Linked DNA regions of Homo sapiens. The protein of the gene in region 1 binds, or shares a complex with, the protein of each later gene. Each region holds a gene or a part of one and is shown on either strand. Other genes may lie near its edges.

The links. Proteins that work in one complex are often made in the same cells at the same time.
Region 2: CENPC (region 1) and CENPA share a complex: the UniProt entries of both Homo sapiens proteins name them as parts of the CENPA-NAC complex.

The regions. Positions count from the first base shown.
Region 1 is NC_000004.12:67,542,394-67,550,647, forward strand, and holds the start of CENPC (centromere protein C), read right to left. Parts: upstream 3,111-8,254; 5' UTR 2,963-3,110; coding exon 2,945-2,962; intron 1,803-2,944; coding exon 1,756-1,802; intron 1-1,755. UniProt on the Homo sapiens protein: Component of the CENPA-NAC (nucleosome-associated) complex, a complex that plays a central role in assembly of kinetochore proteins, mitotic progression and chromosome segregation.
Region 2 is NC_000002.12:26,781,097-26,789,324, reverse strand, and holds the start of CENPA (histone H3-like centromeric protein A), read right to left. Parts: upstream 3,270-8,228; 5' UTR 3,129-3,269; coding exon 3,029-3,128; intron 1-3,028. UniProt on the Homo sapiens protein: Histone H3-like nucleosomal protein that is specifically found in centromeric nucleosomes. Replaces conventional H3 in the nucleosome core of centromeric chromatin that serves as an assembly site for the inner kinetochore.

The DNA.
Region 1 (8,254 bases):
ACTATATATGCAGTAATTAAAAACTGTGAGCCACAGTGCATTATCAGGTCATCCATCATAAAGTTTTATAACTGAAAGATCTCAGAAATCATCCAGTCCAATAATCATCATCCAAATAGATGTGTAAAGTTACTTTTGGAGCTTTGCAGAAATACACTTAATTGGTCACTTCCCACAAACCAATTTAATTAGATTTCCTAGGGTGATGGAGGTAATTCTGATGTGCAAATCTAGTTAAAAACCCCTAGCTGAATCCTATGCCCTCATTTTGCAGATAGGCAAACTGAAACCCAAAATGGTCAAATGGCCTACCTCAGTTTGTAAACCTAAGTAGTATTAGTGGCCGGTTTTCTACCAGAATATATATAGGTGACTATTATAAATTCTGGCCTTGACATCACCCCAAAATACCACCTACAGGTGCACATATTGCACAGCTATAAATACACTCCTGCTATTACCTGTTTCAAGGATGAGATCCAAAAAGATCAGATTTGCCAAGGTGATAATGCAGAGTCACTATTAGAACGCAGGTCACATTAGGCAACAGCTTTTTCAAAATTTATCAAATTCGTCTTTTCTTCCCCTTTGTCATTATTACCTTAGCATAAAAGCACCTCCACCATGTGTAGATTACTACAACACCCTCCTTAAGCTACTTTGTAAACATCAAACATCTTTGCTTTTTTAAATGTGTGTGTGTGTTTATATCAGATAGCCCTTATTCCACAGAAGATTTAGGAGAGCTTATTCAAGCCTATAATAGATGCCTAAAGCCTAACATATCCATTTTATGGCTCAATCCAACTCATATGGTCTTGTTTTCCACTTCTACCCAACATATTCAACCTTCTTAAATCAGGTCTCTCTGCTACTGACAAATATATGTATTCCTACTTTGGTTCCTTCGTTAAGTTACTTTCTATGTCTGGAATATACTTTATCTTAGTCTTTAAATACCTGTTCAAGGTCCACCAAAGTTACACTACAACTTTAAAGCTTTTCTTAATATCAACAACACACAAATCCCTAATTTCTCACATGGCTGTCTATACTGCAAGTTAATGCCTAATTATATATAGGCCTACTCTCTATGATACACAAGTCATTACTTCAGTATTGCAAGTAATAATTTTTGTCCATTAAATTGTTTCACAAATGTACATATACATTTTCCCAACAGAAATCTAAGCTTCTTGTAAACAAAAGAACATACTTCTGTGCCCCATTGGACCTACTAAAATCACAGCTCAATAAACATGACGTTATTCATAATAACATCTTCACTTTTAAAAACATGCTTTTCATCCTATTACTAGTAAATATTTAACTAGAAAATTTACTTTTTACAGGTTTTACAACTAAAAGAAGAACCAAAACAACCCAAACAAGCACTCAACAAATGCACGACAGCATGTACTATTTTTCTTTTTGCCCCACTGAATAAGCTACATCTTTCTAATTTTACCATTTGATTCATTCTACAAAATGCTTTTCCCATGGCAGTCACTTAGTCAGAACTGAGACTCCCTCTTCCTGGTTCCACTATTTTATCAGGTGAATTTCTTTTTTCACAGCCACAAAGTCATTGCACTGCTTGCATTAACATTCCCGTTAGTATAAGATGACTACCCTTAATCAGTGGGCACAGAAATCATTATATTAGTCAGAGGTGATAGTTTTTCCTTTCTTCATTTAAAAATCTATTAACGATGAGAATAAAAATAATCTTAAAAGCTTAAGTACGTAAATCACCTGGAAGGTCGACAAAATCTTCTTCTGTAGCCATTTTTGAGATGATCCTGAAAGAAAAGTAAATCATCAATTTGGTTTCTTTAAGATAGAGTCGAGTAAAATTTATTTTCAAAGTAACTTCATCCAGTATGGGCATGCTATACACCAAACATCTCCTAAGGGCTCAAAACAATTTTGAGGTTATGTTATGACATAACATAGGTTATGACAGGCATTTAAAAACTGAACTGCAGGCATCTGGTAAGCTTTATTCCGCTTCTCTCCCCACAGTGAGAATGGCTTTATTGCTTTCTTCTGATTATATATAATGTAAACAATATATGTGCTCATAGTAAAAAGTATAGATTATATTATTCTTTCATACAACTCTTTATGTTTATATGTATAACGTCACATAATGGGAGATCATCGAAGCTGAAGATTTTCTTAGAAGGGGAGATAAATTAGAAAAGAAATGATACGGATTTTTATATAGTAACCATAACCAAAGTATGAAATATAGAATAGTGAACACCAAAGAAGTCCAGAAATATGTAAACAAAATGAGTTGTCGCCCCCATTAGTCATTCACAGCTTGTACCTTTTAACTGATAGCTGTCTTTCAGAAGAGTTTGTCAATAACATATGCTCCATAAATCAGCCTCAAGAACTGCATAAAAGGCCACCATTTTGACAGAAGAACTGAAAACGTCAAATTATTTCGAGACGTACTTGTTACATAATCTGTTTCTCCCAACTACCAAGTGTGACGCAAAGACACACTTTTAAGGCGTTTCAATACTTCTACCATGGGGAGAAAAGTTATTTGGAGGCCTAGGAACTGGAGCTAGACTAAAAAGCAGAAGCCAAGATCGCGCCACTGCACTCCAGCCTGGGGGACAGAGCAAGACCCCGTCTCAAAAACAAAAACAAAAAAAAACCCAGCAGAAATCACAAGCACCTCTCAAGAGTAAGACGTAGGCACAGACGAAATGACGACATGAAAACTTAAGAAATAATAAAAGTACAGTAAATTAACTCTGGTTATCGACACACGATCACACTTGATTTCAAAAATTCCTGCGGCTTTCCCACTGAAATCCCTCAGAGATCACAGCCTCAGCCTAGCATTTCCTTCTCCCCAGCCTCGGGCGCCCGTGCCCCAGCCAGCCGCTCAACCACTCGCCTGGAGCGGGGGGCCTGCACTTACCAGACCGGACGCAGCCATGTTCCGGCCCCGCTGAGCCAGCGCAACTGTCTGAGGTGGAAGCCCACACGGACCACAGCTCCAGGAAGCCGAGCAAGAAACGAATCGCCGGAATACCAGGCCGCGGCCAAGCAATAACCTTAAGTCTCAGGCGACTGCCGCGAGAGCTGCGATCCGGAAGGCGCGCGCTAACAACACTCCCCCGCCATTGGCTCCGCCCTCAACAAACAAGAACGCTTGGCCTGTGCCTGGGTTTGAACCCGGAGACACATGCGCAAAACGGGCCGCGCCGTCCAATAGGAAGCAAGCCGTTAGTGGGCTCGCCCCTTCATGCTCCAGGCCAACGGCCCTCCAGCCTGCAGACCCACCCGCCCGCCCTACCTCTAGCCGCTCTGCTCTTCCCACCTCCCTTCCTCAGCGCCGCGCCCGGGACAGGCGCGAGACTGGGCTTTTATTAGGAAGGCACGATCCTGGGAACCGCTCCTTGTGCCCAATGTAAAACTTCTCAACAGTTCTATTAAGGAATAATAAGTAATACTTGGAAGGATGAGAGGTAGAAATTGCAGACGACTTTTTTTTTAATAGAATCTTTTTTTGAAGAGATTTTTCTAATGCAGATTCGTCAGCCACGCCCAGCCCATCTAACCATCATCTCTGAAAATAATTGAATAATTATGTATAATAATGGTGATGATGGCTTGTATTCTTTTTCAAGTATGTGGGCGATATTTTTATGATGCATTGCCAACAAATGACCCACGTAAATATCTATCATTTAAGTATGATGCACTGAAAAGAATTCTATACAGAATCCTGAAACCTGCCAGCCATTGACTAGCTATGTTATGGAGGGCAAAATTGCGGCACCATTCTGGGTGTTTCCATAGTGATAGAATGGAAGTCTAAATTAGACGCTCTGAAGACTTCTCACCTGACCAGTGTATGATTCTATGAAGCTGTATCTTATTTTATTATTTAATTTAAAATTACAAGAAAATTCTAATCAGAAAATAGTTTACTAATTGAATAAATACATTAATCAGGAGTTGAGCTAATAGATTTTTAAAACATGTAGTGCTTTAACAAATGCTGTCAACTATGAAGGCCAATTTTTTTATTTTATTTATTTTTTTGATAGAAAAAAAGGAACTATGATCTCTGACTGAAATTAGGCCTGGATTGCACTCCATTCCATTAATTCTGCCATTATGGGCAACTAAGTTATCTGTTCCTTAATTCTCTTGTCTGCAAAATGAGAATACTATTAAAGTGGTTGAGATGTTGTAATTGAATAATTCCTGTTAAGATCTAAGCACAATGTTTGGAACATAGTAAGAATTCAATAATAAAGCTATTGGAATCATTATGGAGAGTTTTTTACTATGTTTGGCAGTTTTGCCAATCAGTCCAACTTATAATTTGGTGCTGTCACATTTGGAATAGATAATGATAAACACTAACATTTATTGACTGCATACTCTATGCCCAGTTCTGAAATGCTTTGCATGCATTGAAGAGAACAATTAATATTCCTGTTTTATAAACAAGGGCACTGAAACACAGAGAGCTAAGTGTCTTACCCAAGATCACATCACCACTAAATGGTAGGATGGGTTATTATCCCAAGAATTCTCACTCCACAACTGAGCTCTTAATCACTACACTCTTTGCCTCTGGGTAAGAAATTTTAGCAAGCACGATTATAGATGTAAAGTCCCACATGTAAAATTATATCCTCCTGCTTCCACTGGAAACTAAGTCCCACACTTATTTTGAGAAATTTGGAATGCAATGGCTTGTGCTGCTGCAGAAAGCAGGCCACAGAGGGCGTTGAGGATTAACTGTTCTAAAGAAAATAGAGCAGTACTCTTATAAAAACAGTTGTGGAGACTCCACAGTTTCCAGAGAAACGTTTTACTTCCATATGTACTTGTTGTAGTACTTAATAGCCCACCATGGTTTTAGTATCCTAAAATAGGATTGCTAATTAATGGGGGGAGTAATATTTATTTAAAAACCCAAGTTTGTCGTTATAAATCTCCCCCCAAAATACATCAAAGATTACTTCTTATGAACTGCTAGGACAATCTTGAAGTTTTCTTTCACAACTACTTACCTAGTTAAGGGGTGTGTGTGCATGTGTGTATTTACATATCAGTATATGGAAGTATTAACATATACATAATTAGATGTGTATATGGGAACATAAAGTATCCAGAAATTTGGCTTGAAAGAGAAGTAAAAAAAACTTTTCGTTACTTATGGTTTTAGGTACATAATTTAAAATTTGTAAATCTTGAAACTATTTCAAAGAATATTTTGTTTTAGATCTTTGATTTCCATCAAATAACTATGGTATGGGTATTTACTACCAAAGTGTCTTCCATTAAGTGTTAGCACAAAAATATTCACAACTGAACTAACACTTAAAAATTAGTCTGTATTCATTCCCACCCCACAGCTTAACATGTGCATCTGTCCTGGTGAGTGGATAAACAAATGTACCTCAATGCAGTGCAATACTCTTCAGCAATAAAAGCAAACTACTGATATACAATATGGATGAATCTTGAAAGCACTGTACTAAGTGAAAGAAGCTGGACATCAATGACTGTATGAAAAGAAATCAAATCGCTGGTTACCAGGGGTTGAGGAGGGTGGGGGAAAAAAGACTGTAAAGGAATAAGAGGGAACTTTTTGCGGTGCTGAAAATATTCTATGTCTTGATTACGATGGTAGTTACATGGCTATATCTATTTGTCAAAATTCCTAGTTAGAACTGTGCCCCTGAAAAAGGCGACCTTTTTTTTTTTGAGAAAGGTCTTGCTTGGTTGCCCAGGCTGGAGTGCAGTGGCACAATCAAGGCCCACTGCAGCCTCTACCTGCTGGGCTAAAATGATTCTCCTGCCTCAGCCTCGTGAATATCTGGGACCACAGGCATGCACCACCACACCCTGCTAATTTTTTTTTTTTTAATTTTTTGTAGAGATGGGATCTTCCTATGTTGCCCAAGCTGGTCCTGAACTCTTGGGCTCAAGTGATCCTCTGGCTTCTGCCTCCCGAATTGCTGGGTTACAGGCATGAGCCACCACACCTGGCCAAAATAGTGACTTTTACAGTAAATTATACCTCAGTAAATCTGTGAGAGCGATGATAAAAGAGAGAAAGAGAAAATGAGAGAGACTCAAAGGCACTGTATGAAAACCAAATGCAATGTGTAAACTTTGATTAGAGTCTAGTTCAAAACAAAGTAACTGTAAAGAGCATTAAGCAATAAGTGAAAATGAAAAAATTAATTTTCAGATGATATTAGAGAATTGTAAAGTTTTCTTAGGTATTATAATGTGATTATGTCTATGTAATTTGTCCTTACTCTTAGGATATGCATATCAAAGTATTTAGAGGTAAAATGTCTTGTGATATTTGTAAGTACTTTGAAATTGTTAATCATAAAGAGATTGAGATAGTTAAATACATACGGCAAAATATTAACAATTATTGAATCTAGTTCATTGGTGTGTTTATTAACAATACTCTTTCAGTTTCTCTGTATGTTTGAAATATTTCATAGAAAAATGATGGGGAAACTTGAACTTAATAAAATTGCTTAAGTTCTAAAAACTTTTGCAAAAACATTTATTATTTATTCTGCAAAAGTCAAAAGTGAAAATATTAGCAAATGACTATCATATAATTTTGTCAGAAAAATTACACATGAAAAATGAATTTCTTCTAAAAAGTATAGCATAGTCACAATTATAACAATATTTGCTAAGATAAAATAGACTTAGTTTTATGATTTTGGTTTTTTTTTATAATGTAATTTTTTTTCTTTTACTCCTTACTGCCAAATGTTGGTCCCTCTGTTAAGGAGATTCATTTAAGTATCCTTTTCTGATAAAAAATTATCCTCCAATAGAAATGCTATCTATGCTATGTAGACCATAATGGAAAAGTTAATAAAATGTGCTTGCAATGTACAGGTAGGTGGCAGCAATGTTTACAAAATAGTTTTACCACGCTATGAGTTGTTAAGGTCTGCAATGTGTCATTAATTGTAAAGTGCTATATAAATTAACTGATCTTTACATTTCCTAAATTACCTTTGTGTCAACCATTGCTTATTAGTTATAGTTATATTCTATTATGTACACATTGTTTCTCTTAAGATCACAACAAATAACACTATTCTGTAGATCTCCATTCTGCATCCTATAAGATAGGATAGTTTACTTCTAGTCAACTTATTTTCTACTCACACAAAGGAAATTTTGTCATTGAAAACACATTAAGATTTTCAAAAGCTTAATAAAATGGTTCTGCATTGTAATTTTACTCTTGAGAGGACTTAAATTACCCTGAGTGAAAATTGGCAAGTAATGTAGGATACTGTTTTTAAATTTCAGGCAGTCATTGCTTTGCAAAGTAGTACAGGACCCTTAAAAAGACCCTGTAAGCTGAAACCATGCAAACCGATCTTTGCTTGGGAAAAATTCTGATTGTTTCATGACCTTTAAAAAAAAATTATCAGCTGGAGGCGGTGGCTAACGCCTGTAATCCTAGCACTTTGGGAGACTGAGGCTGGCGGATCACCTGAGGTCAGGAGTTCAAGATCAGCCTGGCCAACGTGGCAAAACCCCGTCTCTACTAAAAATACAAAAATTAGCTGGGCGCAGTGGCTCACGCCTGTAATCCCAGCACTTTGGGAGGCCGAGGCAGGCGGATCACGAGGTCAGGAGATCGAGACCGTCCTAGCTAACATGGTGAAACCCTGTCTCTACTAAAAAATACAAAACAATTAGCCGAGCATGGTGGCGGGTGCCTGTAGTCCCAGCTACTCGGGGGGCTGAGGCAGGAGAATGGCATGAACCCGGGAGGCGGAGCTTGCAGTGAGCCGAGATCGTGCAACTGCACTCCAGCCTGGGCAACAGAGCGAGACTCCGTCTCAAAAACAATAAAAATAAAGATACAAAAATTAGCCAGGAGTGGTGGTGTACGCCTGTAATCCCAGCTACTCGGGAGGCTGAGGCAGGAGAATTGCTTGAACCTGGGAGAGAGGCTGCAGTGAGCCGAGATCACGCCACTGTACTGCAGCCTGGGAGACAGAGCGAGACTCAGCCTCAAAAAAAAAAAAAAAAAAAAATTATCAAAATATTAACATGTCTCTTGCTGTCAGTTATAAATTTATGGGGAAATGAAAAAATAGTAAAACTAATACTTATATAGCACATTGTAACTCAAAGCATTAGAAACATTGAGCATTAAAGTGCTTTAGTTCTCAGTTTTGTTTTCTATTTTTTTATTTTTGGCTCC
Region 2 (8,228 bases), on another chromosome or scaffold:
GGAACAGAACGCTTCAAGGAGAAAGAGGCCCACTGCGTCAAATGCTTCTGAGACACAGTAAGAACACAGACCCACCTACTGGATTTGGCACTACAAAAGGTGCTAGTGACCCTGACAGGAGTAGTTCAAGCAGATTAGAAGTGGGGGTAGTGGTTGTGGGGAGTCAGATTGGAGTGGGTTGTAGGGTCACTAGGAAGGGAGGAATCAGATGCAATGTATGTGGACCTAACAAGTCTGGCTATTTTAAAAGGACAGCTATGAAGGGAAGTAGAGGGAAATGGGAGGTATAGGGAAGTGAGAATGTGGGGTCAAGGAAACACTCCTGCCCTTTCTCTTAAGATCGTAAATACGGCCAGGCGCAGCGGCTCAGGCCTGTAATCCCAGCACTCTGGGAGGCCAAGGTGGGCGGATCACTTGAGGTTGGCAGTTGGAGACCAGCCTGACCAACATGGTGAAACCCCGTCTCTACTAAAAACACAAAATTAGCCGGATGCGGTGGTGCATGCCTGTAATCCTAGCTACTCGGGAGGCTGAGGCAGGAGAATCGCTTGAACCCGGGAGGTAGAGGTTGCGGTAAGCCGAGATCACGCCGTTGCTCTCCAGCCTGGGCAACAAGAGGGAAACTCCGTCTCAAAAACAAAAACAAAAACAAAACAAAACAAAACATCATAAATACTAGAGCATATGTGCCGATGCCAGTGTGAAGTGTCTGGATTTATCTAAGCACAGGTAGAAAGCTCCTCTGTAGGTGAAAGAAGGATATGACCAAGACCCCATGTAGAAGGAAGGGCTTTGATAGGAAGGGGGACACCTAGTCAAGGCCATTATTGGCTAAGAGTGAGTGGGGGGAATGGAGCTGTAGGAAGTCGAGGAGGGAGAAAAAGGTATGAAATAGTCATGGGGAGAATGGAAAAGCAAGAATTCCAGACAAAGGCCAGGCACGATGGCTGTTTTTTTTTTGTTCTGTAGAGACAAAACAATTTGTCTCTACAAAAAAGGTTTAAAAATAGTCAAGCATGGTGGTGCAGGTCTGTCATCCTAGCTATTCAGGAGGGTGAAGCAGGAGGACTGCATGAGCCCAGGAGGTCAAGGCTGCAATGAACCAAGATAGCACCACTGCACTACAGCCTGGATGACAAGAGTGAGACTCTGTCTCGAAAATTGAAGAAAGAATACCAGACAAAGGTGGTAGGACTGCCAAGAAGTGTTGACTGCCCATTTGAGATAAACCTTCCATTTAACCAGGAGTAGAAGGATGCTTCTACCTTGGAAAGCAACAGCAAACATCATACTTAATATTCCTGTTAAAATTACAAACAAGACAAAGATGACCAAAACACCACTCTTAGTGAGTCTCAGGGCCTTACTAGTACCATACAATAATAAATAAAATGTGTAGAAATGAAAACGGAAGATTCAAAAGTTATTTGCAGATGACATAATAGTCTACTTAAAAATTCCAACTGGAGCAACTAAAAACGACTAGGGTGAACGAGAATTCAGCAAGTTGGCTGGAAGCAAAGGTTAAATCCTCGTGTTTTGGGAAAGAAAAAAAATCCCATTCGCAACAGCAACATCTAGAAACAACCTACTCCAGCCTAGGCAACATGGCAAAATCCCACCTCTACTAAAAATACAAAAAATTAGCCGGCATGGTGGCATATGCCTGTAGTCCCAGCTACTCGGGAGGCTGAGCTGGGAGAAGCACCTGAGCCTGGGAAGTTGAGGCTGCAGTGAACCCTCGTGGCATCACTGCACTCCAACCTGGGCGATGGGTCTCAAAAAAAAAACAACAAAAAACCAAAAAGCCGGCCGGGCGCGGTGGCTCACGCCTGTAATCCCAGCACTTTGGGAGACCGAGGTGGGCGGATCACGAGGTCAGGAGATCAAGACCATCCTGGCTAACACGGTGAAACCCTGTCTCTACCAAAAATACAAAAAATTAGCCGGGCGTGGTGGTAGGCGCCTGTAGTCCCAGCTACTCGGGAGGCTGAGGCAGGAGAAGGGCGTGAACCCAGGAGGCGGAGCTTGCCGTGAGCGGAGATCGCGCCACTGCACTCCAGCCTGGGCGACAAAGCCTGACTCCGTCTCCAAAACAAAACAAAAAACCCAAAAAAGCCTGTAGGCACAGTGGCTCATGCCTGCAATCCCAGCACTTTGGGAGGCCCAGGCAGGAGGATCACTTGAGGCCAGGAGTTTGAGACCAGCCTGGGTAACACAGGGAGACCCAGTCTCTACAAAAAGCAATGAAACAAATAAACTACAATACACTTCCCATCTTCCTCATAGCTACGTAGCAAGAGTTAAGAGATAAGTAAAGCAGCTGTTGCCACCATGTACCATACAGGCATCTGCCTCCTCCTGCCGTTGGGTCTCCCATCCACCAGCCCACCATAGACAATTAAGACACAGACTTCGGCCCCTTTTCCCGGACACAAGCTCTGGAAGGCAACAGAGTGAGCAGCGCAGAGGGCCTCGGTTCAAGGCCTAACAGCCTCTCCCGGAAGGGAAAAAAAACCCCTGAAAGACACCTCCTAAGAGGACTCCTGTTTGAAATCGTCACCGAAAGCAGTCAATACTTTTGCAATTTAAAAATGCACAAACACAGAGGATTGGAAATCCCGTGTCCGCCAGAACACCAAGTTGTGTGACTCTGCTCAAGCTCTCTGGCCTGTGCCTCGGCTTTCTCATTAGCTGTAAAATGGGCACAATATGAAGCTGAGATAACGCACGAACAGTGGGAGGCAATGCCTGGTTGGCGGTGGGCGGTGGGCGCTGGGTAACCACTAGTCCTAACAAGAAGACGGCGTTAGGAGCCAAGTGGCTAAGCCGGTCCCTTCCCGCTTTCGGAACCGCCTGCTCCAGCCCCTCGCAGGGCTGGCACCGCCCGTGCCCGGAGCGGATGCCGGACGGCGGAACCGCGTTGTCCCCCAACAGGGAAGTGCCACGGGATCGGGACTCGGGAGATCCGGGCTCCGCCTGCGAGCCTCGGTTTTCTCCTCTTCGAGATGGGGCCGCGGCCGGTTACCTAAGGAGGGGCCCCGCCGGGAGGGGCCGGGGGTCGGGGTCGGGCTCGGGCTGCGCCTCCTCGGGGCCTCGGGCTTTCGGCTCCGGCGGCGCGGGCCCATGACACGCCGCAGAGGGTGCTGGCGCCCGGTCCCACGGCTCCTGCTCGGGCTGCCGGGTCCGGGAGCGAAAGGCTGGCTTCTGGGGAGCCCAGAGAACGCTGTGCCGCGAGCCTCACATGAGCCGGTGCTTGGCAGAAGTCCGCGCCGCTCGCGTTCAAATCGCTCGCTCCGCCCACTTCACGGCCGGCGTTTTTTAAAACCCGAATCCAGCGACTCCCAGTGGCTGACTCTGGAACGCCCCTTACGTAGAGCGACTGCAGGTAGGGCCAATGAGAGTATGCACCGAGACACAAATATAGCGGCGATGATAGGAGGACAGGGGAGACTGATGGTAAAATCAACCAATAGACAACTAAAGAGATGGGGCGGGAAATTCTCCTGCCCCCTGCTTGCCAATCTGGTTGCTGGTCTTTGCGGGACCGTACTGACGTCCTCAGGTGCCCTCCAGTCAAAACACCGAAGCTCAGTTTGGAACGTGGATGGTGTGTTTGTAGAACGTGCTTTCTAGAAAAGTCGCTTTCCTCAAACATTTTATGCTTTGCCTTAGCAACGCAGAGATGGCTTTTAAAGATGAGGAAACAGACCCATAGAGAATGTGACAACCCCGTGTCGTATCTGCGACTCTCCCAGGAACTATCCACAGATATACTCAGAATCCAGTTCAACTGCATAAACTTTGCTGACGCTTGGGGTCGCGGGGACGGCGGGATCGGCGGGGCTTTGAGAATAAGGTCCGGGCAGGGCAGGCCTCGGCACTATAGCAACGCAATCGTCCCAAAAAAATGCTCTCTTCCCTTTGTTGGGGATAATAAAAATTCAAGTCATGTCCCGGTATGTAGAATAAGGGGAATTTTAATTTTCTAAATTTTATTTCTTGCATTTTCTAAATGTTCTACAGTGAACATGTAATCAGGAAAAATGTTATAAAATTAGTGATTTCATGGAACCCTTGTGCATTGCTGGTGGGAGTGTAAAATGCTGCGGCTGCTGTGAAAAATAGTATTGGTGGTTCCTCAAAAAATCAAAAATAGAATTACCAGATGATCCAGTAATTCCACTTCTGGCTAAATATCCAAAAGAATTTAAATATAGCCAGGGACTTGAACAGATATTCTCACACCCATGTTGATAGCGGCATTCTTCACAACAGCCCGAAGGCAGAAACAGCCTGAATACACACCAACAGATGAACGGATAAACAAAATGGGGTGTATACCACAATGTTATTCAGCCTTTAAAAGGAAGGGAATTCTGACACCTGCTGCAACATAGATGAACCTTGAGGACGTTATGCTAAGTGAAATAAAGCAGTCCACCAAGGGACAAATGCTGGGCTGGGGTGCGGTGGTTCATGCCTGTAATCCCAGCGCTTTGGGAGGCCAAGTTGTTCGGAACCACTGAGTTCGAGTTCGAGTCCAACCTGGCCAACATGGCGAAACTCCATCTTGCCGAGCGTGGTGGCTCACGCCTGTAAACCCAGCACTCTGGGAGGCCGAGGCAGGCAGATCACCCGAGGTCAGGAGTTCAAGACCAGCATGGCCAACATGGCGATACCCCGTCTCTACTAAAAATATAAAAATTTGCCAGGTGCTGTGGCTCACGCCTGTAATCCCAGCTACTCAGGAGGCTGAGGCAGAGTTGCTTGAACCTGAAAGGCGGAGGTTGCAGTGAGCCGAAATCATGCCACGGCACTCCAGCCTAGGCGACAAGAGTGAGACTCTGTCTCAAAAAAAAAAAAAAAAAAAAAAGAGAAGGGGAAGGAGAAGGAGGAGAAGGAAGAAAGAAACCCCACCTCTACCAAAGATACACACACACACAAATTAGCCCGGGCGTGCAGATGTATGCCTGTCGCCCCAGCTACTCAGGAGGCTGAGGTGGGAGAATCGCTCGAGTCCAGGAGGTTGAGGCTGAACTGAGCCATGATTGTGGCACTGCACTCCAGCCTGGGCGACAGAGTGGCACCTCTCTCAAAAAAAAAGAAAAAAAAAAAGGACAAGGCCGGGTGTGGTGGCTCATGCCTGTATAATCCCAGCACTTTGGGAGGCTGAGGCCAGTGGATCATGAGGTCAGGAGATCGAGACCATCCCGGCTAACCTGGTGAAAACCCGCTTCTACTAAAAATACAAAAAATTAGCCGGGCGTGGTGGCACGGGCCTGTAGTCCCAGCTACTCGGGAGGCTGAGGCAGGAGAATTGCTTGAACCTAGGAGGGGAAGGTTGCAGTGAGCTGAGATTGTGCCACTGCACTCCAGCCTGGGCAATAGAGCAAGACTCTGTCTCCAAAAAAAAAAAAAAAAAAGGACAAATACTGTATGAGGTACCTGGAATAACGGAACTCATAGAGACAGAAAGTAAAATGGTGGTTGCCAGTGAGTAAGGGAGGAATGGGGAGTTAGTATTTAATAGGTGGGGAGTTTTAGTTTGAGAAGATGAAAAATTCTGGATATGGATGGTGGTGATGGTTGCACAACACTGTGAACGTGCTTAACGCCACTGAACTGTACACTTAAAACTGGTTAAAATGGTAAATTCTATGTTGTGTGTGTGTGTGTATATATATATATATATATATTAACCCCGCCCCACAACCGGGTCTTGCACTATTGTCTAGGCTGGAGTATAGTGGTGCAATCACAGCTAACTGCAGCCTTGAACTGCTGGACTCATGCAATCCTCCCACTTCAGCCTCCTGAGTAGCTGGGACTAACAGGAATGTACCATCACACTTGGCTAATTTTTTTTTTTTTTTTTTTTGAGATGGAGTCTTACTTTGTCACCAGGCTGGAGTGCAGTGGTGCGACCACCACTCACTGCAACCTCTGCCTCCCGGGTTCAAGCGATTCCCCTGCCTCAGCCTTCCAAGTAGCTAGGACTACAGGCGTGTGCCACCACGCCCAAAGTGCTGAGATTACAGGCGTGAGCCACCGCACCCTGCCACTTGGCTGATTTTTTAAAAAACATTTTGTGGTGCCATGGTAACTCTGGCTTATCATATAGCCCTTATTATATAGTCATGTATATATAATAAAGGCATTATACAGTTCCCATGCTTAACAATGGGGATATGCTCTGCGAAATGTGTTGTTAGACGATTTTGTCATTGTGCAATCATAAAGTGTACTTACACAAACCTGGATGGTATAGTGTATCACACACCTTGGCTATATGGTATAGCCTATTGCTCCTAGGCGACAAACCTGTGCAGCATGTTCCTGTACTGAATACTGTAGGCAACTGTAATGCAATGGTATTTGTGTATCTAACATATGTAACCTAGAAAAGGCACAGTAAAAAAACAGTATAAAAAATGGGCTGGGTACACTGGCTCACCCCTGTAATCCTAAAATTTTGGAAGGCCAAGGCAGGAGCATTGTTTGAGCCCAGTAGTTCGAGATCAGTCTGGGCAACGTGGTGAGACCCCATCTCCGCAGGAAATAAAAACAATTAGCTGGGCACGGTGGTGCATGCCTGTAGTGCCAGCTACTCGGGAGGCTGAGGCAGGAGGATCACTTGAGCCCAGGAGTTTAAGGCTACAGTGAGATAGGATCATGCCACTGCACCCCAGTGACAGCAACAGATCAAGACTCTGTCTCTAAAAAGAAAAATTTTCCTTCTTCAATAATAAATTAATCTTAGCTTAATGGTAACGTTTTAACTTTATAAGCTTTTGAACTGTAAAATTTGACTCTTGTAATAACACTTAGCTTAAAACACACACTGCAAGTATACAAAAACATTTTTTCTTTATATCTTTTTTTTTTTTTTTTTTTTTTTGAGACGGAGTCTCACTCTGTCGCCCAGGCTAGAGTGCAGTGGCCCGATCTCGGCTCACTGCAAGCTCCGCCTCCCAGGTTCACACCATTCTCCTGCCTCAGCCTCCCAAGTAGCTGGGACTACAGGCCCCCGCCACCATGCCCGGCTAATTTTTTGTACTTTTAGTAGAGACGGGGTTTCACCGTGTTAGCCAGGATGGTCTCGATCTCCTGACCTCGTGATCCACCCACCTCAGCCTCCCAAAGTGCTGGGATTACAGGCGTGAGCCACCGCACCCGGTTTATATCTTTATTTTTAAGCTTTTTTTTCTTTTTTGAGACTGAGTCTCACTGTTGCCCAGGCTGGAGTGCAGTGGCGTGATCTTGGCTCACTGCAAACTCTGCCTCCCGGGTTCAAGTGATTCTCCTGCCTCAGCCTCCTGAGTAGCTGAGATTACAGGCTTGTGCCACCATGCCCAGCTAATTTTTGTATGTTTACTAGAGACAGGGTTTTGCCATGCTGGCCAGGCTGGTCTCGAACTTCTGACCTCAGGTGAACCACCCACCTCGGCCTCCCAAAGTGCTGGGATTACAGGCGTGAGCCACCATGCCTGGCCTCTGGCTGCAGTATCTGTGGCAGAATGGGACAGGCGAGGATTGAGAACCAGGACATCTGGCTTTTGCCTGTTAACTGACTGTGTGACCCTTGGGAAGTTACTTCTGCTTTTTGGGTTTCTTCATTTGAACAATGAATGGAGGACTAGGTAATTGGTATGCTTTTCAAACATTGGAGAGATTTTCCACACCAACATTCTAGAGGCTAGCTCCAGACATCCTCTTGTGCCCCTTCTCTCTCATGAAAAATGTCCAGTACTGCTGATATAGTTTGGATGTGTGTCCCCACCCAAATCTCATATTGAAATGTAATCCCCAATCTTGGAGGTGGGGCCTAGTGGGAGGTGACTGGATCATGGGGGTGCATTTCTCATGAATGGTTTAACAGCATTCCACTTGGTACTGTCCTCTTGAGTGTTCTTGTGAGATCTGGGTGTTTAAAACGTGTGTGGCACCTCCTCCTGCGCCCCCTTGCTCCTACTCTGGCCACATAAGATGTGTCTGCTTCCCCTTTGCCTTTCCACTATGATTGTAAGTTTCCTGAGGCCTCCCCAGAAGCAGAAGCTACTATGCTTCCTGTATAGCCTGCAGAACTGTGAGCCAATTAAACCTCTTTTCTTTATAAATTAAATTACCCAGTCTCAGGTATTTCTTTACAGCAATTCGAGAATGGATTAATACAATTGCCAATTTTCCTTTTCTTTTTTTAAAAAATAAAAGCCAAAATAACACTT